Linked DNA regions of Homo sapiens: regions 1 and 3 are each linked to region 2. The links come from fine-mapping of genetic effects on gene expression. A gene starts in region 2. Each other region holds a variant in brackets. All regions are shown on one strand. Distances are between the middles of the regions. Region 1 holds the start of LINC02692 (long intergenic non-protein coding RNA 2692). Region 2 holds the start of LCN12 (lipocalin 12). Region 3 has its middle 4.4 kb from the start of DIPK1B.

Region 1 (8,171 bases), 20 kb after region 2:
TCTTGAACTCCTGACCTCATGTGATCCACCTGCCTTGGCTTCCCAAAGTGCTGGGATTACAGGCGTGAACCACTGCGCCCGGCCCTATGTTAGTTTTTTATAGTTTTAAACTATATTAGTTTTTTCCAAGAGTCAGCTTTTGACTTGGATCTTCCTATTACATCTTTGTTTCTGTTTGTTTTTGTTTGTTTGTTTTTTGAGAGAGTCTCACTCTGTCACCCAAGTTGGAGTGTAGTGGCTCGATCTCGGCTCACTGCAAGCTCCACCTCCCGGGTTCACGCCATTCTCCTGCCTCAGCCTCCCAAGTAGCTGGGACTACAGGCGTCTACCACCCCTGAACCCGGAAGTTGCAGTGAGCCAAGATCATGCCACTGCACTCCAGCCTGGGCGACAGTGGAAGATACTATATCCAAAAAATAATAATAATAATAAAAGTTTACATTCAATAAATAAAATTTTTAAAAGGATATTTACATCAGTGTAGTATGTGAAGTAAACAAGAAAAAGATAAAACTCACTTTTTAAGTAAAAACAATGAGTCATGTTCTTGAAGTATGTTGTAATCTTTAAATATCAGAAAATTAAGGGAAGTTAATTTTTATTATTACTATTATTTTTTTTTGAGACACAGTCTTGCTGTCGCCTAGGCTGGAGTGCAGTGGTACGCTCTCCGCTCACTGCAAGCTCTGCCTCCCAGGTTCACGTCATTCTCCTGCCTCAGCCTCCCGAGTAGCTGGGACTACAGGTGTCCGCCACCACGCCCAGCTAATTTTTTGTATTTTTAGTAGAGACGGGGTTTCACCATGTTAGCCAGGATGGTCTCAATCTCCTGACCTCGTGATGTGCCTGTCTCAGCCTCCCAAAGTGCTGAGATTACAGGCATGAGCCACCGCACCCGGCCCCTATTACATCTTTGTTTCTATTTGTTTAATTCTCGGTCTGGTGAGGGTCAGCCCCCACCAAGGGTCCTGGCAGTTTCCCTTCTAGGCTCGCCCCTCCCCTGCCCACGCCCCGGCAGCCCTCACCCCAGCGTGGCTGGGCGGGTGGGGGAGGGGCTTCTTCCTGGGAGGGAGGGGCCCCTGAGCCCCCTGCACACCAGCCGGGCCCCATCTGTGACCTCTTTGCCACGCCTCTAATACCGCTCGCTTGCTCAGAGGGCACATGGCCGGGGGGTCCTTGGGAGTCTGTGCAAAGCCTTAGTCACATGGAGGGACCTGAGGGAGGCTGGATGTGGAGGAGACAGTGAGAGAAGGTGAGGTCCCCGTGTCATGTCACCCACCACCTGCCGGCCACCAGGTTCCTGCCTGGGACAGCTGAGCCCTGACAGCCCTCGGCGAGGAGGCCCGGGCTCTCTAGCAACCTGGCTGCAGCTCCTGACACAGGCTGGGCTGCCCTTGGCCCAGGGCCCTCCAGAGATAACCCAAGTGCCCTGTGAGCAGGCCTGAGGGAGGGTGGGTAGCCCAGGACAGGGCACCTGGGGGTGAGGCAGAGACCAAAGACCCACAAGATGCTCCCCAATGCAGGCTGAGCTCCAGGGAGCTGCTGGGATCCTGGAAGAGGACAGAGGCCCCCCAAGGCCTTAGAGGAACCCAGAGACTGCTGGGCCCAGTGGGAGGTGTCTGGACCCTCCAGCCTGCGCCCACGTCCTCTGGCCCACCTGCCCATCGTGCCTCTGCCAACGGGCCCAGAGCTGACGCACCCCCACAGCCCAGCGCCCGGGTCACCAAGTCCTGAACTCAGAAATGCACATATTCCCTGGGACCCCTGAGAATTGGGCTGTGGCCAGGCCAAGGCCAAGGTCCTCTGGGGAAGCCCCAGCTAAGGTCAGCAGCGGCCTCCCAGGGTCAGCCATCCCCAGGGGCCTCATTACAGGACCAGGGTGGTAAGAAGTCCGCAGCCCCGCACAGCAGCTGTCGAGGGGAGGCAGATGGGCTGAGGGCCCTGGGGGAGTGGGGCCAAGACCTGCTGCACCCAGGAGAGAGGAGGCTTGGAGGACAGGGGTGGGGCTGCATCTGGGAGGTCCTGGCCCAGACTGGACCCGTGGGCAGAGCAGGGTGGGTGCCAGCAGCCTCAGCACAGACACACTCCGTCCCACCCACCACCAGCGCTCTGGAGCCTGCCCCGGGCCAGGGAACAGCTTGGCCTGATCCTGCTGACGCCTCAGGGCAGGACAGGGCAGGGAGGCTCCAGGCGGCCACCCATGCTGGGCACACAGTGGACTCTCGCACGGTGTCTTCTGCCGTCACACCCTGACCCAGGGCTGGCCGGGAGCCTTCGGGGCGACAGCTCCGAGGATGGACGTAGGGGTACGAGGGCAGGGACCCGGGCTTTGGGAATCAGAGCTGAGGCCTGGGGCCTCCCTGGGAGCTGGTGGTCTCTGCGGGTGCCCACCCTCAGCCCACATTTCCACCCCGCTTCCCCTCCCAAGGTTGAGACCAGGGAATGGTGGGCACCAGTGGAAGGCACGCTCCTCAATCTTTGCTGGGCTGAGTCCAAGGAGGGCCCCCTGCCTCCCCAGCCCAGCCTCCCTCTGCCCTGCCTCGCCCCTTAGCCCCGCTGCTGAGGAGGGAGAGGGGCAAAATCTCACCCTTCCTGCACTTGGAGAAAAAGAGGTTGCTTGTCCTGGGGTGGGGGCCAGCAGGGGACCTCGTTACTAGGGGGTCCCAGCCCAGACCCTCACCCACCCCCTTCCCCACCCCCATCCTCACCCCCTGCCAGGCCAGCTGCTGCCCCAGAGTCCTGCCCCCTGCAGCCCTGTGTGGAGCCCTGGGACTCCTGTGGGTGGGCCTCACCCTGCTGGGGACGGTCCAGCCACAGCGCCAGGGCCCCCAGAGGGGCCTGAACTTGCCTTTCCACAAGATCTGTCTCCAGCCTGGCCTCAGAAAGGAGCGGGTGAGTGGCCTCCAGGATGGGGAAGGAGGAAGGAGGGTGCAGCTGGGCCGATGGGCCTGACTGCCACAGTGAGCATGGCCCTCATGGCCCTGGAGAACCCTGCCAGGTGGGAAGAGCTCACGCCCTCTGTGCAGGTGGAGAAAGTGAGGCTCAGGAAGGCTGCCCACCCACTGGCCAGGGTCACCCATCCCTGTCAGATCCGGACTCCTGCCAGAGTCACGGGTGCCAGCCCAGCCTGGAACCCCTGCCTGGGGAGGGGGTCCTGGCCCTGCCCACTGCCAGCCCCTGCAGTTCTGGGGGAGTGGTGCGTCCTGGGGCTGGCGGTCAACACTTTCAGGCCGGAGCGCAGGTCCCAATTCAGGATGTTGGTGGCAGCCGTGGTCATGTCCAGCCTGCTCACCTGAGGCTGGGTGCCCAGAGCCCCTGCCGGGTGATGGGACTGCCCGGGGAGGGGAGACGGAGGGCTGTGGGGTGGAGACCCTTCATACAGACAGGCAGGTGGGTGGACCCCGTGGGTGGAAGGAGGCAGCGCCTGCCTTGAGGGAGCTCACCCACACCCTCAGCACAGCTGTGGGGCCCCTGCTTCTCCCCCGGGGCCTGCAGTTTGGAGGAGGAGCCTGTCCTGAGACCCAGGGGCAGGGGAAGATCAGGGCAGGGTGCAGGGCCCAGGGACATGGTGGCTGTGGCTGGGACATCCCAATTCCATGCATCCAGTGAGAACTTCCACGGGGAGGGGACGTGGTCAGAGGCGGGGACAGGCAGGCTGCCAGGAAGAGCAGCCTCAGGAAGAGTGGGGAGCAGGACCCTCCGGGAGGCCAGGAAGCCTCCCCTCCCCAGCTCATCCGACCTGCCCCTCCCCAAAGCCTTCACCCCAGCCTCTCCCCACCACAACCTCCTCCCACAGGGACCCACCCTGCAAACGCTGGGCCAGGACCCCTGTCCCGGAGAAGCAGCCAGCTCAGAACCCCCTTGGAGGCCGGGAGGGTGAGTCTTCCCTGCCTGACACCCCAAGAAAGGCCCAGAACTGCCCCAGGTTAAGGTCACTCCACATCTGTAATCCCAGCATTTAGGGAGGCCGAGGCAGGAGGATCAACTGGGGCCAAGAGTTCGGGACCAGGCTGGGCAACATGGGGAGAGCCCATCTCTACAAAAATAAAATTGAAAAATTAGCTGGGTGTGGTGGTGCATGCCTGTAGTCCCAGCTACTTGGGAGGCTAAGGAGGGAGGATTGCTTGGGCCCAGGAGGCTGCATTGAGCTGTGACCGTGCCACTGCACTCCAGCCTGGGCGACAAAGCAAGACCCTGACTCGAAAAACATAAATAAATTAAAATGGACACTCCAGGGAAGGTCTTGGTGTGGCCCCAGAGGGGGCATGATCAGCAGCCTGTCCCCAGCAGTAGGGTCCTGAGCCCTGCCTGACCCGCCTGCTCCGTGCAGAAGTGGGGTTGGAAAATGACGAGATGGAGGCTACGCCGAGACCAAGCGCCAGGAGAAGGGACCCAGGCCAAGCTGCTCGGTGAGGCCCTGAGCACGGCGGGAAGGGGCCATGCAGGACCCCCTGAGGGCTGGGCTGGGGAGGGAGGGGTCTCCCCAGGGCTCACCCCCCTTCTTGGCACAGGGCAGGGGAAGGAGCTGGATTTAGACCTGAGGGAGAAATTTATCAGATTTGACCAGATCCTGGGCATCAGCCTTGACCACATTCCCTTCCTGCCCCAGACTGGCCCCGGCAGGCCTTGGGGGTGTGGGGTAGGCAAGCAGAGACCACACTGATGCGGGGAGGTTGGCCCAGAGCCCTGCAGGCCAAAGCCTGGGGCCGGGCAGCAGTGTCCGCCGAGGAGAGGGTGTCTGGTGCCTGAATGACACAACCTGAGAGGCACCAGCCCCAATCCTGTCCGTGCAGCCCAGCGGGGAGGACTGCCCAGGAGACCATAGGGGTCCGGAGGTCAAGGCCAGGTGCCAGAGGGTCCTGGCAGGACCCGGGGTCACTGGAGGCACCCCACGTACACGGCAGGCGGAGGGGACGGCAGTGCCGGAGGAGGGGCTGCAGGGAAGCCCTTGTCAGCCCCCATTTCTGACCCAAGGGCCTTGGCCGGGAAGGCCAAGCTTGAGGCAAGAGGGTTCTGAGCTGGAAGAGGCCAGGCCCCCCAGACGCAGGGGCCCCGTGGGAAGAGGGAGGCCATGAGCTGAGGCCACAGCAGCTGAGGCTCTGAGAGCTGAGAGTGAGCTGGGG[C/G]CCTGCCGGAGCCTCGCTACCAACTGCTCCAGGTGTGGGGGACACTGCGGGGCCCAAACCTGGACACACCTGCGGCCTGGAGTGTCCCCCCCACCCAACCCAGGGCCTCTGAGGGTCTCTGCCCAAGCTCCTGGGTCCCCTGTACTGGGCCACCTGCAGCTCCCAAGGCAGCCCTGGGGGCAGGCAGGAGCCCCCGGGTCAGAGGTCGTGCGACCCTGGCCTTGGACCCTTGGGCCTCTGACCAGCACTCCTGCCTCACAGAAGAGCCCGTGGTGAGCCACGAGTGTGACTGCCAGGGGTCCTGGGGGTCCCGGGCCACTCTGGGATCCACGAGGCCCTCCTTCCTCCTGGCCCTGGCACCCCCTCCACCCCTCTCTCTCCTGCAGGTCTCTGCTTCTCCCTCCTCTCACTCTAGCCCCTCCGTGATTCTCTGCCTGGGCCGGCCACCCTCTGTCCTGAGGACGCTGGAGCCTGGCCCGGCCCTTGGCAGCCCCACCCTCACCGCCCATCCCAGCCTCGCTGGTGCCCCCTCCACGTGGGAGGCTCAGCCACACCTGCCCCCACGACCCCATCAGAAATAAACAGTCTGTGCCAGGAGAAGCCGGATCCGACTGTCCTTGAGCACTGGGTGATGGGTGGGCAGGGCCTCGGGGAGCAGCCCAGGTTCCAGGCCCAGGAGGAGCTGAGCTCGGACATTTGTCCTCATCTAACCCCCAGTGGCTGCCTCCCTCCCAGCTGGGTGCTCTCCTGGCCCGTCCCACGCTCTCTGGTGAACAGAGCCAGATTCATCCTCAAACATAGGCCACCCTCCATGGCGCCCAGCAGAAACTGCCCTAGGCTGGAGGGCTGGGACCGTGGGGTGACAGAGGCTGCGGAGGCCTGTGACCAAGGGTCCCTGCCCAGCTCCACAGCACCTGGCAGCCCTTGCCCCTGCTAGGAGCGCCCTTTCCTCACCGCTGGCTCTTCTCAGATCTGTGGCCCCATCCCCCTGGGTTGCCTCAAAGGAACCCCAGAGTGAGAGGCAGGAGCCCCCATCTCAGGGGCGTGGGCCCAGGCTCCCTGTGTGCCACCCCACGTTCCCCCGATGGGAGGCAGGAGTCCCTGAAGATCCAGGCCCAGCCCTGACCGGGGGTGGGCACAGAGGTGGGGAGCAGCCTCTGGGATCGGGTCTCCACCTGTGCCCTGCCGGAGCCAGCCCCTGCGCTGAATGGTACTTCCGGCTTCTGGTCTCTGTGGGGAGCGGTGCCCAGCCTGGTGCTACAGTGACCCAGGGGTCCTTAGGCGAGGCCCTCCCAGGCTTGGCCCCTGCCCAGACCCTGCCCTCCTGGGGAGCTCCCGCCCAGCCCCTAAATGGGTGAGGTGGGGACACTTTAGCCCTGACCTTCCATGGCCGAGCTGGGCGCTTCCTGAAGCCAGACTGGGCCTCAGAGGTCCACTGCACCGGGATCCTGGAGCTGAGCTTCTCGAGGCCAGGGGTGTGGGTGTGGTGTCGGGTGTGGGTGCGGGTGTGGTGTTGGGGGTTGGGCCGCCCCCTCCTCCCGGCCCTGCTACCTTTGGGATGCGGCAGCCTCTGACCAGCCTGCTGGACCCCACATTGGACAGATCGTTCAGCACCCCCAAATTGCCATCTGTCCCCCACAGACAGCCAGCCTAGCCCTGGCTCCAAAGCTGCAGAATTGGCTGAGGCTTGGCCATAACCGTCTTTGGACCCCATGGCCAGCAATGCACATATGAGCCTCAAGTCCCAGGGACATATCTGCTCCCCTATCCTCTGGCTTGTCCCGGGCTGCCCTGTCCTCTGCGCCGTCCCCGGCTGCTGGGCGGGCCTGACCTCCAGGGTGGTGCTGGGAGAGGTGGCCAGAGGCAGCCAGAAAGGGTGAGCGGAGAGGTGGCCGTCCCCCATGTCAGTGAACACCCAAACAGACAGGCACAGAGAGGAGGGCTGGGTGAAGAGTGGGTCCCATGTGCTTTGAGCAGCTCAGAGATGCCCTGAGGAGGGGCTGTCCCACGTGGCCCGTCCACTCAGGCCTCCTTCAATCACAGAGCAGCTCCCTTGACGCAGGGAGGCCTTGGGGAGAATTTCTTGCCCCTAGAGGAGCCCTGAGCTGCCCCCACCGCACCCGGCCCTGGTCTCCCCGGCTACAATCTCAGGGGTGCTCCTGCTCTGCCCCTGACTTGTCCAGAACACTCCACAGCGTCTCAGTGATCCCGGGCACTGCCCTTCCCTATGGAAGATCCTCAGCGGGGCAGCTCTGGCAGGAGTGAGCCTCTGGGGCCGTGAGGCTTGGGTACCTCTGAAAGGTGGGGTGTAGAGGCTGCCCCTCCCCAGTCCCAGGCTGGGGGAGTTGATCCCAGGCTGCAGGTGGGTGGGGCTCACGAGGTCCCCATGAGTTTATTTGAGGCTGGTGGACACTCAGTCGAGCTCAGCTCCCACCAGTCACTGGGACAGCCTCGGCCCTCAAGGGCAAACCATTGGTGGGGATGCTGGACAGGGTCATCACTGCCCCCGGAGGATGCTGGCCGGGGCCCCAGGGTGGAGACAGCTTCCCTCCAGGAAAAGGTTGGGGTCAGTTCTGGGAGCTTAGGCCCAGGCCACCAGGCTTGTCCATGACCTGCCTGGGCCGCAGGCAGGGGGATGGCCTTGGTGACCTCTTAGGGTGGAGGCCAAGTCTTTGCATTTTGTGACTCAAAGAGACTGGTTCCCAGAGAGCAGGGTGGGGCGGCCAGCCTTCTTCCTGCCCAGCCCTCCGCCAGGCTCCACTAAGGTCCTGCCTGGCAGCCAAGCTCAGAGCAAAGGGAAGGGCACAGAGAGTGTGCAGGGTGGTCCTTGTCCCTGCCCAAGCTGCAAGAGGCTCTGCGAAGGTCCCTCCTGCCCCTGTCCACCTTGCACAGTCCTAGCCGGGGGAGGAGGGGAGAAATCTGGCGTGCCAGGAGCTGGCAACTGCCCAGCCCTTCCTGGATGTGGTGAGAGATGAATCTCCAGCCCTCGGGTGGGCCCAGGTGCACCCATGAATCAGGGCTCGTGGGCAGCTCCCACTCACTGGTCCT
Region 2 (8,153 bases):
CCCGGGCTGCTCTTCCGCCCCCGTGGGAGGCCAGCTGTCTCCCGTCACTGCCCATTTTGGCCTCTTCCGAGCCGAGCTGGCACCAGCTGGCCCGTGTTGGTGGCAGCAGTTGGTGCTGTCCACCCACAGCCACTGCACTCTCTGCACACCTCATCCACTCCCACGTCCCCCGTGAAACCAGGAAGCAGAAGAGAATGTGGGGGTGGGCCAGCTCTGCCCTCGGGGCAGCCCCTGGGCTAGGGCCGGAGAATCAGGAACCCGGCATGGCTTGACCATGCTGGGCCTGGACCTGGCCGCTAAGCTGCTCCTCTCAGGCCCTGCCTGCGGCCACTGGCATTTGTTTGATAAGCATTTCTGAAGGCCCACTGTGTGCTGGGCCCTGGGACCACCAGGTGGGCTGGTCCCTCCCCCTAGGAACTTACAAGTCCAGGGATCAGCCACCAATCGGCCACAGTGGGCAGGGATGGGAGGAGAAGGCACCTTGGAGTTGGTCCCAAAGCACACGGCCTGGGTGGGGGCAGGGAGGAGCCAGCAGCTGCTTCAGGGGGGTCCCCATCCCACGGGCGGGGCTCCCCCTGCCGTGCCCACCTGTTCACTAAGCTGCTAGACCCCAGGAGGGCAGGCAAGTCAGGTGGTGGGAAGGGGAGGCAGGGGCCCTGACTGCCGGGACCTGGGAAGGAGAAGGGCCCAGGAGGTCGTACCCTTGCATCGCCTTCCCCCACTCCAGCTCCATGTCCCAGAGACCCATGAGATAGCAGGGCGCAGCAGAAGGGCTCAGGGTTCAGAGCTGGCAACGCCGGGAAGACTCTAGGCCTGAGCCCCAGGAAAGCCTCCTCCATGCCTGGCCCCACATCCCCCAAACAGAAAGTGAGGGTCTCATCTGGGGGCAGGAGGAGTCGGGTAGCTGGCCACGGTCACAAGCTTCAGGGAGGGCTGAATGTCCGAGGGGTGGCGCCAGAGACCCACCCGATGACCTTGGGTGCTGTGGTTGGTGGCAGAGTGGCCCAGCCTGACCCTCCACGCCTCTGACTGCAGGGCTGGGTGGGTTCCCGCACTGAGTGAAGTGCGTGGCCACTTGGCTGTGTGCTCTGGGACCAGAGGATGTGCAGCGCAAGGATTACAAGGCATTTCATTTTCACAGAAGCATTGAATGAGCTCTAGTTAAATTTCAAACACTACATAAAATCACGATAGCTCTGTGTGAATCATTGTTCTTTAAAATAGTTTGCATAATTTGGCTGGGCGTGGTGGCTTACGCCTATAATCCCAGCACTTTGGGAGGCTGAGGCGGGTGGATCACTTGAGGCCAGGAGTTCAAGACCAGCCTGTCCAACATGGTGAAACCTTGTCTCTACTAAAAATACAAAAATTAGCTGGTCATGGTGGCAGGCGCCTGTAATCCCAGCTACTCCAGAGGCTGAGGCAGGAGAATTGCTTGAACCCAGGAGGCAGAGGTTGTGGTGACCCGGGATCATGCCACTGCCTCCAGTCTGGGCGACAGTGAGACTCTGTCTCAAAAAAAAAAAAAAAAAAAAAATCTATGGAAATGGCTGGGCGCTGTGGCTCACGCCTGTAATTCTAGCACTTTGGGAGGCTGAGGCGGGCAGATCACTTGAGGTCAGGAGTTTGAAACCAGCCTGGCCAACATGGTGAAACCCCGTCTCTACTAAAAATACAAAAAAAATTAGCCAGGCGTGGTGGTGGGCGCCTGTAATCCTAGCTACCCAGGAGGCTCAGGCAGGAGAATCGCTTGAATCCAGGGGACAGAGGTTGCCGTGAGCCGAGATCGCGCCATTGCACTCCAGCCCGGGTGACAGAGCGAGACTCTGTCTCAATTTATTTAAAAAACAACAACAAACAACAACAAAACTATGCAAACTGGCTGGGCACAGTGGCTCACACCTTTAATCTCAGCACTTTGAGAGGCTGAGGCAGGAGGATCGCTTGAGGCCAGGAGTTCAAGATCTGACTGGGTGGGCAACATAGTGAGACCTCATCTCTATTTAAAAAAAAAGTTTTTTCATCTATAGAAACTAACATTTAATTGTTAGCAGTCTTGCCCAAGACCTGCGGGGTCAGGAGTCCAGGACTGTCCTGGGTGCCCCCGCCTTGCCTGGACGTGAGAGTGCTGTGTGGGGCCCCGGGAGCCCCTGGTCCCACAGGCAGGGCCGACAGGCAGGTGCCGTGCCCGTCCTCCCTGCCCACGCAGGTGCTCAGAGGGACAGGTGGGCCAGGACTCCTCCATGTGGGGACGAGGCACCCTCCTCCCCAGCCACGCCCCAACCACCCCTGGCCCCCCACCCCACCCCCAAGGGGCCTCCCAGCGCCCAGGACCGTGTCTGGGAAAAGGTCTTTGCCCGGAGAGTGGGAAGAGAGAGGGGAGGGTGAGCAGAGGACAGGCCGGGAGTTTTCCGGGAACGGAGGAAGAGCAGTGGAGGGTAAGTCTGTCCTTGTTGCTGTGGGGAGGCCGAGATGAAGGCGATGGGTTGGGGGTGGGGGTGCCGGGGAGCGAAGCAGAGGGAAGAGAGGACCTGATGGGAGGGGTCAATGGGAGAGGCCCCAGGGACCGGTCCCCACGGTGGGCTGGGGGTCCAGGGTGCTGAGTGGAAGCGGCGGTTTCCCTCCCGCCTCTCAAGGACGCCTTGCAGAAGGCGCGGCTGCTCCTCCCCGTGGCACGCAAGCTCCCGGGCACCGCCTCCCGCCTCGGCCTCCCAAAGCGCTGGGCTCACTGGCGTGTGCTGCCGCGCCCGGCCCGCCCACCCCAGGCGGTATGGAAGGCCGAGGTCAGAGCCAGGACTCCCCCGGGAGCCCCGCAGGTGCCTCAAGGCCCGCGTCCTGCACGGCCCGTTCCAGCGCCGCCGGCCCAGCCAGGCAAAGGCACCTGCAGGGCCCTGATTGGGCGGCGGAGGTCACGTGCCCACCCTCCACCAATCACGTTAGACGGGAGGAGCAGCACCTGCGTCTGCCCCGCGGTGGGGGGAGGAGGCGCGCCGAACCCATTGTCGTGTCCGGGAGGCTCCTGCAGGGGACGTGGGGGGCACAGAGGTTAACGGCAGCAGCCAGTGGCTACCTGGAGGCACACACAGACCCCCCAGGGCGGCAGGAGTGGGTCTGGGGGAGGGAGCATGGGGCCTGAGGCGCTGCTTGGAGCCGAGGGACCCTCCTCTGTGTCGAGGACTCGGCCCACCCGACCTCTGCTGCTCAGTCTCTGTGGGTCTCGGGCTGGCCAGGGAAGGCCCGGTTTTCCTCCCGCAGGGCCCTGCATGGGCGGGGTCCGTAGCGGGGACTGTCCTGTACATGGGCTGTGTGCTGTGATCCCAAATCTCCCCAGTGCCCTGCGATAAGACGGGCTCCGGGAGGGGTGCCTGCTGCGCTGAGAGCGGGACCCTGGGGCTGCGGACAGGCGCTCCTAGGCTGGCTGGGGCCAGGGGGATGGTGGAGAGTCGAAGGCGCCTTGGGGAGTTCAGGGGAATGAACAGATTATTTCCAACTTTTCCTTCCCTGGGCCAGCCTCCTGAAACGCTAGCGTTGTGCTGGTGAGACAAGGCACAGCAAGCTGCCCTTCTACGTGGGCAGTGAGGCCTGGGACAGAGCCCAGCCCTGGAGCCCTGAAGTCCTGGGGGCTGGGCTCTTCGAGTGGCCAGGCTGGGGCTGCCACCCAGGGCAGGCTGCCGAGGCCCAGGGCACCTCCTGGGATGAGCCTAAGTCCCTTGTAAGCAGGGCTGGATGAGGGGAGGAGGTGGCCAGGACAGGGAATCTGGGGTGGGAGGGGGCAGCCAGGACAGGGACCTGGGGGGCCTGGACAGAGGCTCACAGGCCAGGCACACGGTGAGTGGGAGGCACCTGGCTCACCCTTGGTGACCCCTAACATGGAGTCCAGCACCCAGAGGCTTCAGCTACCTGTGAGGATGGGAGGAGAGGTCAGGAAGGGGACTCCACTCCCTAGCCCCATCGTCCAAGGGGTGCCAGGGCAGCTAGAAGCCCCAAGCCTGCCATTGCCCTCCCTGCCAGCCCTCTGTTTACATTTTATTTTTATATTTTTAGAGATGAGATCTCAGTCTTGCCCAGGCTGGAGTCCAGTGGCACAATCATAGCTTACTGCAGGCTCAAACTCCTGGGCTAAAGCAATCCTCCCACCTCAGCCTCTCAAGTAGCTGGGACCACAGGTGTGCACCACCACCCCCAGCTAACTTTTAAATTTTTTTGTAGAGATGGAGTCTCGCTATGTTGTCCAGGGTGATGTCAAACTCCTGGGCTTGAGAGATCCTCCCACCTTGGCCCCCCAAAGTGCTGGGATTATAGGCATGAGCCTCTGTGCCTGGCCTACTAATCCTTTCTTTTAGGCAGGACCAGCATGGGGTGCCCACTCCCATTAGTGGGGCTTCCCAGCCCTGCCCCTCCCTCTGGGCAGAGACTGCGTTTAAAATGCCCCAGCTGTCCTCACCAGGTTGCCTGGGTGCTCTGCAGGCCCCAGCCTCCCTCCTCGCCTGCTCGGGCCACCTCCACCCCGGCCTCATGGCCACAGGGCCCCTCCCTGGTCCTGTTCTTGCTCCAGGGCCACGGCCCACGCTGCGGTTCAGGCATGTGTGGAGCCAGGCAGGGTGGGGGTAGGGGGGCGGCTGGCAGGCCCAGGCCCTGCAGGGGGAATGCCCGGGTTTGGCCACAGCTGGGCCCTGTCCCTTATGGCTGCGGCAGGTCACGCTGTCTGCCTGGGACGCAACATTCTGTGACAGGGAGGAAGGCTGGGGCAGGCTGCGTGGGGCCTCTGAACCCCCAGCATGGGGCACTTGGAAGGGGGCTGAAGGGGGCAGGGCCTCAGAAATGAGAAGAAGAGGTGGAAGGTGGACCTGGGGGCCCCTCCTACCCCACCTGGCTGGAACCCAAGAGACCGCAGGTGGGTGGGTGGGACCTGAGGAGAGCCCACACCAAGCCTGCCCTGGGCACCACCTCTCCTGCCAGTCCTGAGGAGGGAGGCAGAGGGGCACACCCCCTTGGGAGGGGCACCTGCTGGGTATGTGCATGAAGAGGTGGGTCTCTGGGTCACCTGCCCATGGCCACTTCCTTCTCTCTGTCCCTGTGGGCCCAGCAGCTGCCAGGATGAGGCTGCTGTGTGGCCTGTGGCTGTGGCTCTCCTTGCTGAAAGTCCTGCAGGCCCAGACCCCAACCCCCCTGCCACTCCCGCCCCCGATGCAGAGCTTCCAAGGAAACCAGGTACAGGGGTTTTGACGGAAGGAGAAGCAGCCGGCTGGGTCTGAGTGCAGGGAGAGGCTGGTGGCTGAGCAGGCCTGGGGATGCTGCCCAGAGAGCCAGGACCAGCCGTGCTTCCAGGAGCCCCCAGGCGGGCCCCTGACCTCCAGCAGAGGAGGGCCCAGCGCAGACCTTCCTGGCACCCATTCCCTGCCGTCAGCCCAGCCCATCGCTCCCTCTGTGCGTGAGGGGAAACAGGCTCGGGAAGGCCGCACAGCCACTGGCCAGGGTCACCATGTCCCTGCCAGACCCAGAGTAGGCTCTGGTTCTTGCCAGTGTCCCTGGCGCCGGCCCAGCCAGGAGCACTGCTCTGTGAGGGGTCCAGAAGCTGCCAGGGAGGGCGGGAGGGGGCTCCTGACCCTGCCCACTGCCACCCCTGCCCACCGCCGCCCCTGCCCACCACCGCCTCTGTAGTTCCAGGGGGAATGGTTCGTCCTGGGCCTGGCGGGCAACAGCTTCAGGCCGGAGCACAGGGCGCTGCTGAACGCTTTCACCGCAACTTTTGAGCTAAGTGATGATGGCCGCTTTGAGGTGTGGAATGCGATGACTCGGTGAGTGGCTGTCCCTGCCGTTCCAAGCGGGTGAGGAGGATCCCGGGCCTGGGTCCCAGCCGCCAGTGGCTCAGGTGCGCCATGGGCCCTGTCCCAGCACAGGCAGCTTCATGACTCTGCCTGCCAATGACCAAACCCAGCTGGGGAGTATACAAAAAAGTGTGGGCAGCTGGGCGCGCTGGCTCACACCTGTAATCCTAGCACTTCGGGGGCCGGGTGCGCTGGCTCACACCTGTAATCCCAGCACTTCCGGGGCTGGGCGCGCTGGCTCACACCTGTAATCCCAGGACTTCAGGGGCCGGGCGCGCTGGCTCACACCTGTAATCCTAGCACTTTGGGGGCCGGGCGCGGTCGCGCACACCTGTAATCCTAGCACTTTGGGGGCCGGGCGCGGTGGCGCACACCTGTAATCCCAGCACTTTAGGGGCCGGGCGCAGTGGCGCACACCTGTAATCCCAGTACTTCAGGAGGCAGAGGCAGAAGGATCACTTGAACTCAGGAGTTTGAGACCAGCCTGAGCAACATAGTTAGACACCATCTCCACTCATGACGCTTGGCCACTCCCGCCGTGGGTCCCTCTGAATAAGTGGCTGAAATCTCCTGAGGGGCCCACCTCAGCATGGACCTGCCAGCTTCCGGAGCCTTCCGCCTCCACCTGTCCCCTCCTACAGAGGCCAGCACTGTGACACATGGTCTTATGTGCTGATACCGGCAGCCCAGCCTGGGCAGTTCACTGTGGACCACGGTGTGGGTAAGCCAGTCACAGGAGGGAGGGACGGGGTGCTGGCCCACAGGGATGTGACGTCTGTGCCGCCTCAGAGCCCGGGGCGGACAGAGAGGAGACCCGGGTGGTGGACAGCGACTACACCCAGTTCGCCCTGATGCTGTCCCGCAGACACACGAGCAGGCTGGCCGTCCTCAGGATCAGCCTGCTGGGTGAGCCTCCCACCCCGTCCTGGGCCCGTGTGTGGCCCTGGAGGCACCTCCTTCCAGGCTTTGGGTCAGACCCTGCCTCCCCACCCCGCCTGGAGTGACTTGGGGGTACAGATAGTTCAATCTCCCACCTACCCAGCCCCCAACCCCCTGCCAAGTGCACAGACCCATGCTGGGCTCCCTGGGCTGCAGGCAGGAGCTGGTTGCTGCCTCCCGGGACGCTGGACCAGTTCATCTGCCTGGGCAGAGCTCAGGGCCTCTCGGATGACAACATCGTCTTCCCAGATGTGACTGGTAACATGGTTCACCTGCAGGCATGCTGGGCAGTAGGCACGGGGCCCGCAGGAATGAGTTTGGTTGACCCTAGAGGAGCTGGACCCAGTGTCTACCCAGGGAGCTCAGCCCCAGCCTGCGCTCAGGGGTCTCCAGGCTCCTGGGTCCCTGTGCTCAACCCAGGCTCTGAGCCACCTCCTGCCGCCCCGGGTCCCCTGTCCTGGGCCACCTCCTCCCACCCCGGGTCTCCTGTCCCGGGCCACCTCCTCCCGCCCCAGGTCCCCTGTCCCGGGCCACCTCCCCCTGCCCCTCCCGCCCCAGGTCCCCTGTCCCGGCCCACCTCCTCCCACCCCGGGTCTCCTGTCCTGGGCTACCTCCTCCCACCCCAGGTCCCCTGTCCCGGGCCATCTCCTCCCTCTGGGTCCCCTGTCCTGGGCCACCTCCTCCCCTCACCCATCCCTGCTCACAAGGAGCTTGGACTCATCCCAGGAGGTGCCCTGGACCTCAGCAGCCTGCCCTGGGTGGCAGCCCCAGCCTGACCACTCAGACAGCCGCGGCCCCCAAGGCCTGACTCTTCTTGTGGGAGGGCGAGGTCAGCCTGAGTCCCTCCTCTTCCTGGAGGGATGCCCACCGTGCCCTTCTGATTCCCGCCTCTGGTCCTTTACATGTGCATAACCACATGCACACACACTCACGCATGAGCAAACGTGTACAGACTGGCACATGCCTCCACATGCGAACACCCACTTACACACACGCCACTCACACTGGCACACATGCTGTCTACCCGTGCACAGGCACACGTGCTGGTCTGCACACACCTGCACACACCTGCACACTCGCTATGCCAGGCCTCCTGGGTCTGCAGTGAGTCTGGGGGCCCATGGGGACAGGGACAGGTGAGGGGCTTCCTGAGGACCTGGGGCTGTTGGGAGCCGCTGTGGGCCACATCTTCTGCCCCTTCTCAGCCTCCCTCACCCCAGCCCCTTCCCCTAGACCCACTGCTGGTCCCCTTTCTCCCTCCTGCTTCTCACCTGAAGCCACCTGCCCCTCCTTTGTGCCCTCCCTTGCTTCCTCCTGGGCTCTGTCCCCTGCTCCCCCTTTGTCCTCCATCCCGACTCCATCTCCCCCACCAGGCTGGTCACCCCA
Region 3 (8,171 bases), 240 kb before region 2:
GTGCCCGCCACCACCCCAGGCTGATTTTTGTATTTTTAGTAGAGACGGGGTTTCACCATGTTGGCCAGGCCGATCTCGAACTCCTGACCTCAGGTGATTCACCTGCCTCGGCCTCCCAAAGTGCTGGGATTACAGGCTTGAGGCCCCGTGCCCGGCCAGGGGTCTCCTTTATAAAGGCCCTGATCTCATTCATGAGAACTCCACCCTTATGACCTTGTCACCTCCCAAAGGCACCACCTCCCAAAACCATCTATATTAGTCCATTCTCACATGGGTACAAAGAAATACCTGAGACTGGGTAATTTAGAAAGAAAAGAGGTTGAATTGGCCCACAGTTCCTCAGACTGTACAGAAAGCATAGCGGCTTCTGCTTTTGGGGAGGCCTCAGGAAACATCATCGTGGCAGAAGGTGAAGGGGACACAGGTGTGTCCTACGTGGCTGGAGCAGGAGGAAGAGGCACCACTGAATTTTATTTATTTATATTTATCTATTTATTTATTTTGAGATGAGTTTTGCTCTTGTCACCCAGGCTGGAGTGCAGTGACACGATCTTGACTCACTGCAACCCCTGCTTCCCAGGTTCAAGCGATTCTTCTGCCTCAGCCTCCCGAGTAGCTGGGACTACATGCACCTGCCACCATGCGTGGCTAATTTCTGTATTTTTGGTAGAGAAGGACTTTCACCATGGTGGCCAGGCTGGTCTGGAACTCCTGACCTCAGGTGATCTGCCCGCCTCGGCCTCCCAAAAGGCTGGGATTACAGGCGTGAGCCACCATGCCCTGCCCGGCTAGATTAAAGTTGTTTAAAGCAAAATAAGGAGCAGTCATTGCCTGAGGCCGTCTCTGTACTGGGAGTTCCCACTAACCAACAACAACTTTATTCAGTAGTTTGTTAACAGATAGCCAGGTTTCAACCAATCAATCACGGGCAGCCAACCAATCAGACCACACCCAAATAAGGCAAAGGTCTTGAGTTATTTCTTTTCTTTTTTTTTTCTTTTTCTTTTTTTTTTTTTTTTTTGAGACAGAGTCATGCTCTGTTGCTCAGGCTGGAGTGCAGTGGTGTGATCTCGGCTCACTGCAACCTCCGCCTCCTGGGTTCAAGCGATTCTCCTGCCTCAGCCTCCCGATTAGCTGGGATTACAGGTGCACACCACCATGCCCAGCTAATTTTTGTATTTTTAGTAAAGACGGGGTTTCACCATGTTGGCCAGGCTGGTCTTGAACTCCTGACCTCATGTGATCTGCCTGCCTCGGCCTCCCAAACTGCTGGGATTACAGGTGTGAGCCACGGTGCCTAGCCTGGCCTTGAGTTATTTCCGTACTTCACTTCCACATTCAGCCTGTAAAAGCCTGCTGCTCACACTGCTAAGACAGAGCTCCCAGAGCCTCTTCCACCTTTGAGTGCTGCCTGATTCATGCCTCCTTTAATGCTCAAATCAACTCTGTTACATCTATTTTGTCTAAAGTAGGAAGAATCCTCAAATAAGATTGCCACTGGGACACCAAGCTCGAGTTGGCCAAATGGTGCAAACTCCACAGATCCAGCTGAAAACAACATGGCAATGGCTACTAAGCCATGGGGCTCCCAAAACTGAAGTAGATGGGTCAGCTGTGAGAAGCTCACTGCCTGGTACGGAGCATTGGATGGATTGAAAATCATGGAACAGTCCCTGGCTGAGTCATGAGCCGTTGCCACGCTGCCTGAAAATAAACGCAGAACCTTGTTCATGGACTTCCTCCTTCCACCTCTCACCCCCCTCCACTTACGTTAGGAAGAAAGATGATTAGAGGTTCCCAGGCCGTGGGCACCATCCAAGTGTGCTGGAGAACTTGGAGGAGAAGAAGAACTCAAACTTTATGGCTCTGTCGGATATGAGTAGCCCACATCACTCTCCTGTTTGGACCAGTGGAAGGAAAAGTTCTCTGGATTCCGCTCACCGGATTTGTGCACGGTTTGAAATGGGGAGTGAAGGCTGATGTGATCTTGTGGGTGTGGCATTTTGGGCCAATTCGATGCCCTGTTTTTGATGCTTCTATGTGTGTGTTGCCGCGTAGGAGCTGTGTTTCATCCCCATACTTCCATCCTGTACGTGCCAGAGGGGACTCTCCCTATTGGCAAGCACTGAATGCAGAGAAGGGCCAGTGGGATGTGTGAATCTCTCTGCAACCCGCTTTCAGGGCGGGTACAGAATCCCAGAAGCGGTACAGAATCCCAGAGGGAAAAAGGCGCATCAGAGGTTTGATTGAGGGATTAAGGGCAGTAGGGGGACTAAGAGATGAAATATGGGGCTGGGCGTGGTGGCTCACGCCTGTAATCCCAGCACTTTGAGAGACTGAGGCCGGTAGATCACTTGACACCAGGAGTTAGAGACCAGCCTGGTCAACATGGTGAAACCCCGTCTCTACTAAAAATACAAAAAAATTAGCCAGGTGTGGTGGCGGGCACCTATAGTCCCAGCTATTCGGGAGGCTGAGGCATAAGAATCCCTTGAACCCATCACTTGAACCCGGGAGGTGGAGGTTGCAGTGAGCCGAGATCGTGCCACTGCACTCCAGCCTGGACAACAGGGTGAGAGTCTGCCTCAAAAAAATAAAGGCTGGTCGTGGTGGCTCAAGCTTCTAATCCCAGCACTTTGGGAAGCCGAGGCGGGTGAATCATCTGAGGTCAGGAGTTCAAGACCAGCCTGGCCAACATGGAGAAACCCAGTCTCTACTAAAACTACAAAAATTAGCTGGGCATAGTGGCGGGCCCCTATAGTTCCAGCTACTCGCGAGGCTGAGGCAGGAGAATCATGTGAACCCAGGAGGCAGAGGCTGCAGTGAGCCGAGATCACGCCACTGCACTCCAGCCTGGGTGACAATCACTGGGTGACACTCCGTGTCAAAAAAAAAAAAAAGAGATGAAATATGGCAACACAACATCCCTGAGTGGCCAGTGGAGCAGGTAAGAGCTGCTGGTGGCTGACAGTGGATTACCACCAACAGAAGTCAGCCATTGCTCCCAGAGCCCTAGCTGTCCTACACACTGTGACCATACCGAGCCCATCACGTGGGCTCCGGGTACTTGGTACACTGTCTTGGATCCTGCCAATGCCTTTTTGCCACACCACTGGCAGGGGAGGAGCAAGACCAGCTTGCATTCACATGGCCAGGTCTCCAATACACTTAGGTGTGTTCCCCGTACACGCCCCGCCACTGGCCACCTGTGGGCAGGTTAGGACTTCTGATGTCCACAGGTGCCATGATACAGATGATGTCCTGCAGGTTGGCAGCTCAGAAGCCTTGGGTCTCTAGAACTAGACAACTAGACGGGGGTACTCTCATACCTCCCTGTCCACAGAGGCAGGCAAAACATCAACAGCGTCCAGTGGCTGCCTCACCAGGTGGAGTTTCTTGGGATGAGGTAGGTGGAGGTGGGTCCACAGCACTCACTGCCTCAGCCAGTCAAGGAAAACCTGTTGTCTCTTTGCTCCCTCATCTCACCCAAAAGGACAACCCAGCACTTGATTGGACTGTGTGGGTGTTGGAGACAGGATGTGCTTCATTTGGGCATTCGACTTGGCTTCTTAAATTAGTGAATCCAGGTCGGGCGAGGTGGCTCACGCCGGTAATCCCAGAACTTTGGGAGGCCGAGGGGGGTGGACCACCTGAGGTCAGGAATTTGAGACCAGCCTGGCCAACATAGCAAAACCCTGTCTCTACTAAAAATATAAAAATTAGCCAGACGTGGTGGTGTGTGCCCGTAATCCCAGCTACTCGGGAGGCCGAGGCAGGAGAATCGCTTGCACCTGGGAGGTGGAGGTTGCAGTGAGCCGAGATCACACCACTACATTCCAGCCTGGGCAACAGAGTAAGACTTGGTATCAAAAAAATAATAATATAAATAAAATAAATTAGTGAACCCACAAATCAGCCTGCTTACGTCAGGGCCTGAACCAACAGGCTATTCCAGCTGCCGCCCCGTGAGCCACAGGCCACTCTCTCTCCCGCTGGGGCCTCACAGCCCTGTGATCCCTTTGAACGACAAGTCCCTGTGGCTGACGATCCCGTTATCTGGAAACTCCAGAGAAAGAAAACAGCCTCTGCCCAGATGTGCCCCTTGGGGTGGTGGATTCACTGACTCTCTGACACGACTACTAGGTTCACCCCTTGTTTTCAAAAAGCAAAATTAGCTTACAACGAGCTCTTGTCCCAGTGAACCACCTGACCACGGAGGCCT[T/C]GTGACTGGAGCCTGACAGTCCCATTCGGAGGGTTTTCAACTCAGACACAACCACCACAAGGAAGGAGGGCCCTAGAGCTTCTCTTTGCAAACAGAAGACTCTGTATTCAACAGCAGCGGGCGGGTCCCCGGTGATATGTCAGCTTCTCATCGGAAGTGGCAGCTCTCCCTTTGGGGGAAACTTGACGCGCCGCACTCCACCGTCTGAGGGAAAGCTCGTGGCTCTCCAGGGCCCTCGATCCACCAGGGCCCCCTAAACGGCTGCTCACCTGGTGTGCTCACCGGCTTGCTGTCAATAAATACGTGGGTAAATCTCTGTTCGAGGCTCTCAGCTCTGAAGGCTGTGAGACCCGATTTCCTATTTCACACCTCTATATTTCTCTGTGTGTGTCTTTAATTCCTCTAACGCCGCTCGGATAGGGTCTCCCTGACTGAGCTGGTCTCAGCACGTCTCTACTAAAAATACAAAAAAAGGCCAGGCGTGGTGGCTCACGCCTGTAATCCCAGCACTTTGGGAGGCCGAAGCGGGCGGATCACGAGGTCAGGAGATCGAGACCATCCTGGCTAACACAGTGAAACTCCGTCTCTACTAAAAATACAAAAAATTAGCTGGGCGCCGTGGCAGGCGCCTGTAGTCCCAGCTACTCGGGAGGCTGAGGCAGGAGAAAGGCGTGAACCCAGGAGGCGGAGCTTGCAGTGAGCTGAGATTGCCCCACTGCACTCCAACCTGGGCAACGGAGCGAGACTCTATCTCAAAAAAAAGGTCTGGGTGTGAGTAGGGGATGCCTGGGGAAGAGACGCAGTTATAGCAGTTGGAATGGGACATGCCAGTTTTGCAGCAGGGCAGGGAGAGCAATGGGCCCCCTGCTTGGGGAGGAAACTCCCAGGCCTCAGGACGAATGGGAAGGAAAGACAGGGCAGGAAGGTCCTCCACTTTCAGAATTGTCCCCGGAGCCTGCCCCGAAGGTGTGTGTGATCCTGTGTCTCTGCGTCTGTGTCTGTGCAGTGGACCTTTCGTTTACCTGTCGTTTGCCCTGGCCAGGGTTTGAGCTCAGGGCCTCAGGCCACGAAAGGCCCTAGAAACAGCAAGGCACGGCCCAGTTCCCGCCCCCACACCTGAGATACCAGTCAGCACCTCCCGGGTCCTCTGCCCCATTCATGTTCCAGGCAGGTGGATGTCACCCATTGGTGGCGTAGAAACAAGGGCCCCAAAACGAGAACTAGACCCATTCAAACTGAACTGGAACCCGGCCAGTGCCCATTCCATGAACACTTGATGGGCTAGTGGCCACGGACAGTGTGCAGGTTCTGGGCCAGGCCTGCAGATGCAAAGGAGAACGTGGTCACTGGTCCCTGCCTGGAGGGAGCACCGCGTCCCGCGGGCCCTGCTGGGAAATGCCTTTTTGGAAGATCTCGGGGACAGGGTCACCCAGGGCCGGCTATGCGCTCACCAGGCACTCCTCCCAGGGCGGGCCATCTCCCTCCTGGCAGCCTGGGAGTGGCACTGAGGCTGCGCTCATCCTTCTCATGGCCCACACCTTCCCCAGATCCTGACCCACGGATCACGCTCTCCTGCGCCCCTCCCCCAGGAAGCCCTCCTCGGGAGACCCTCCAGAACTTTCTTGGCCGCGGTCTTGGCCTGGCTCACATTGACGGAAGGTGTGGGCTCCTGCACCCTCCAGCTGAGCTCCCTGCAGGCCGGACCGACCACCACTGCCCTGCACCCACTCCCCCTGGCCCTGGGACAGCCCTCCTGCAGGAGGAGGACAGGCCATGCAGGGAAGCACATGCTCTCCCAGCTGTAAACATGGCAAGGCCTCCCTCCAGGCCGGGAGAAGCCTACGTGTTGGCCTCTTGGTGCTTGTGCTCTGTGTCCCACCCTCTCGTACTGCTCTTCCCTTTCTTGGGCTCCGGGACCCTCGCTGGCAGAGAGACAGTGCTTGGATCGAGGGAGAGAGGAAAGGTCACTTGGGGACATGGCAGTCCCTCTTCCCAGCCTGGGCTACGGCTACCTTGGGGGTCACTGAGACTGGGAGGGTCTGCCTGCTACTTTCTCCCACTGGCCCCTCTCCCCTTCCTCACGTTGCCTCCAGCCCTGTCCATCCAGGTCGCTGGCCTAGGCCACTGCCACACCCCCAGGCCCACCCCTCCTTTCTATACCTGGCATAGAACCCTGACCCCATTGCCCCCTGGCCTTGTCCCTCTCTGTTTAACTCCCTGCCATGCAATTCTGTGGGGAGGGGCTCATCCTTTCAACAGATGATGCCAGAAGGATTGGATGTCCATGTGCAAAAAATGCTAACAAAACCCCCAAGCCCCAAACTGAAAACCCTCTGATCCACACCCTGCACAATACACAAAAGTTAACTGGAATTGGGTCATTGACTTAAATATGAAGCCGAATACTATACAACTTCTAGAAGAAAGCACAGAAAACCTTTGTGACCTTCGGTTAGGCAAAAATTTCTTAGAGATGACACACTCAGAGCACGATCCGGGCTGGTGGCAGTGGCTCACTCACGCCCAGAATCCCAGAGCTTTGGGAAGCCAAGGTGGGAGGATCGCTTGAGCCCAAAAGTTCAAGACCAGCCTGGGCAACATGGCAAAACCCCATCTCTACAAAACATTAAAAAATTAGCCTGGTGTGGCCAGGCACGGTGGCTCATGCCTGTAATGCCAGCACTTTGGGAGGCCAAGCCAGGCGGATCATGAGGTCAGGAGTGATCCTGGCCAACATAGTGAAACCCCGTCTCTACTAAAAATACAAAAATTAGCCGGGCATGGTGGCTTGCACCTATAGTTCCAGCTACTTGGGAGGCTGAGGCAGGAGAATCTCTTGAACCTGGGTGGCGGAGGTTGCAGTGAGCTGAGATCGCGCCACTGAACTCCAGCCTGGGCTACAAGAGTGAAACTCCGTCAAAAAAAAAAAAAAAAAAAAGGAAAAGAAAAGAAAGAAACTGTTAAGAGAATGAAAAGAAAGCCACAGACTGGGAGAAAAATCTTTGCAAATCACATGTGTAATAATGGGCAGATATCCAGAAGATATAAAGAAGTCTCGGACCAGGCATGGTGACTCACGCCTGTAATCCCAGCACTTTAGGAGGCTGAGGCAGGTGGATCACTTGAGGCCAGGAGTTTGAGACCACTCCGGCCTGGGCAACATAGCAAGACTCCCTCTCAAAAAAAAAAAAAAAAAAAAGTCTTGGCTGGGCACCAGGTGACTCATGCCTGTAATCCCAGCACTTTGGGAGGCCAAGGCAGGATGATCCCTTGAGCCCAGGAGTTCGAGACCAGCCTGGGCAAAACACTGAGACCCAGTCTCATTCTAGATATTAAAAATTAAAACCAAAATGTAAATAAGTCTCAAAACTTAATAATAAAGAAACAACGTGATTTTTATTAATGGTCAAAAACTTGAATAGACTTTGGAGAAGATACACAGGTGGTAACTGAACACGCAGAAAGTGTGTTAAACACGCGAACCACAGCCCCAGCGAGACGCCACCACCAGGGAAATGGCTAAAATGTAAAAACCTGCCGATAGCAAGAGCCGCCCGGGATGCGGAGCAGCTGGAAGCGCCGGCGGCCGCGGGGAGGGAGCGAGTCTTGGCAGCTGCTGGCTGCGCCCCACATCCCTCACCGTCCAACTCAGCCCCCCCAGGTGTTTACCGAAGTGCAATGAAAGCTTCTGTTCACACGGAACCTGCCTATGGAGGCGGCAACGGCTCATCCCCGAGCACCCCACGCGGAGGCGAAGGAAGTGTCCTCCCGGCGAGTGGCCAAGGCGCGGGGTCTCAGCCAGGAGGGAAGGGTCGGACCCCGGGGCGGGCTGCAGGCTCGGCCAGCCCAGGGCTCCGCGCGTCTGACCCCATCCTGAGGACCCAGGGGAAGGACCAGCCCTGGCTCTGCGGCCTCGAACCGGGGGCGCGCGTGGGGAGCCCTGAACCCC

Evidence for each region. PIP is the estimated chance that this variant, and not a neighbour inherited with it, causes the effect.
Region 1: its variant is fine-mapped to the expression of LCN12 in uterus (GTEx, PIP 0.91).
Region 3: its variant is fine-mapped to the expression of LCN12 in aorta (GTEx, PIP 0.98).

What each region holds. Positions count from the first base shown.
Region 1 is chr9:136,967,168-136,975,338 of GRCh38, forward strand. It overlaps LINC02692 (long intergenic non-protein coding RNA 2692), which reads left to right and starts at 2,245. Exons shown (of 5, transcript NR_157392.1): 1 at 2,245-2,306; 2 at 2,719-2,892; 3 at 3,797-3,876; 4 at 4,331-4,409; 5 at 5,510-5,717. It also overlaps LOC124902312. RefSeq lists enhancers at 800-1,301, 1,302-1,801. The variant C/G (reference allele first, on the strand shown) is at 5,124.
Region 2 is chr9:136,947,231-136,955,383 of GRCh38, forward strand. LCN12 (lipocalin 12) reads left to right here and starts at 5,043. Exons shown (of 6, transcript NM_178536.4): 1 at 5,043-5,211; 2 at 5,662-5,798; 3 at 6,470-6,549; 4 at 6,618-6,734; 5 at 6,924-7,025; 6 at 8,141-8,153. The coding sequence starts at 5,098. RefSeq lists silencers at 2,440-2,539, 2,560-3,059, 5,683-5,864.
Region 3 is chr9:136,704,050-136,712,220 of GRCh38, forward strand. No RefSeq gene overlaps it. Among named protein-coding and RNA genes, the nearest start is that of DIPK1B, 4.4 kb to the right of the region's middle. The variant T/C (reference allele first, on the strand shown) is at 4,223.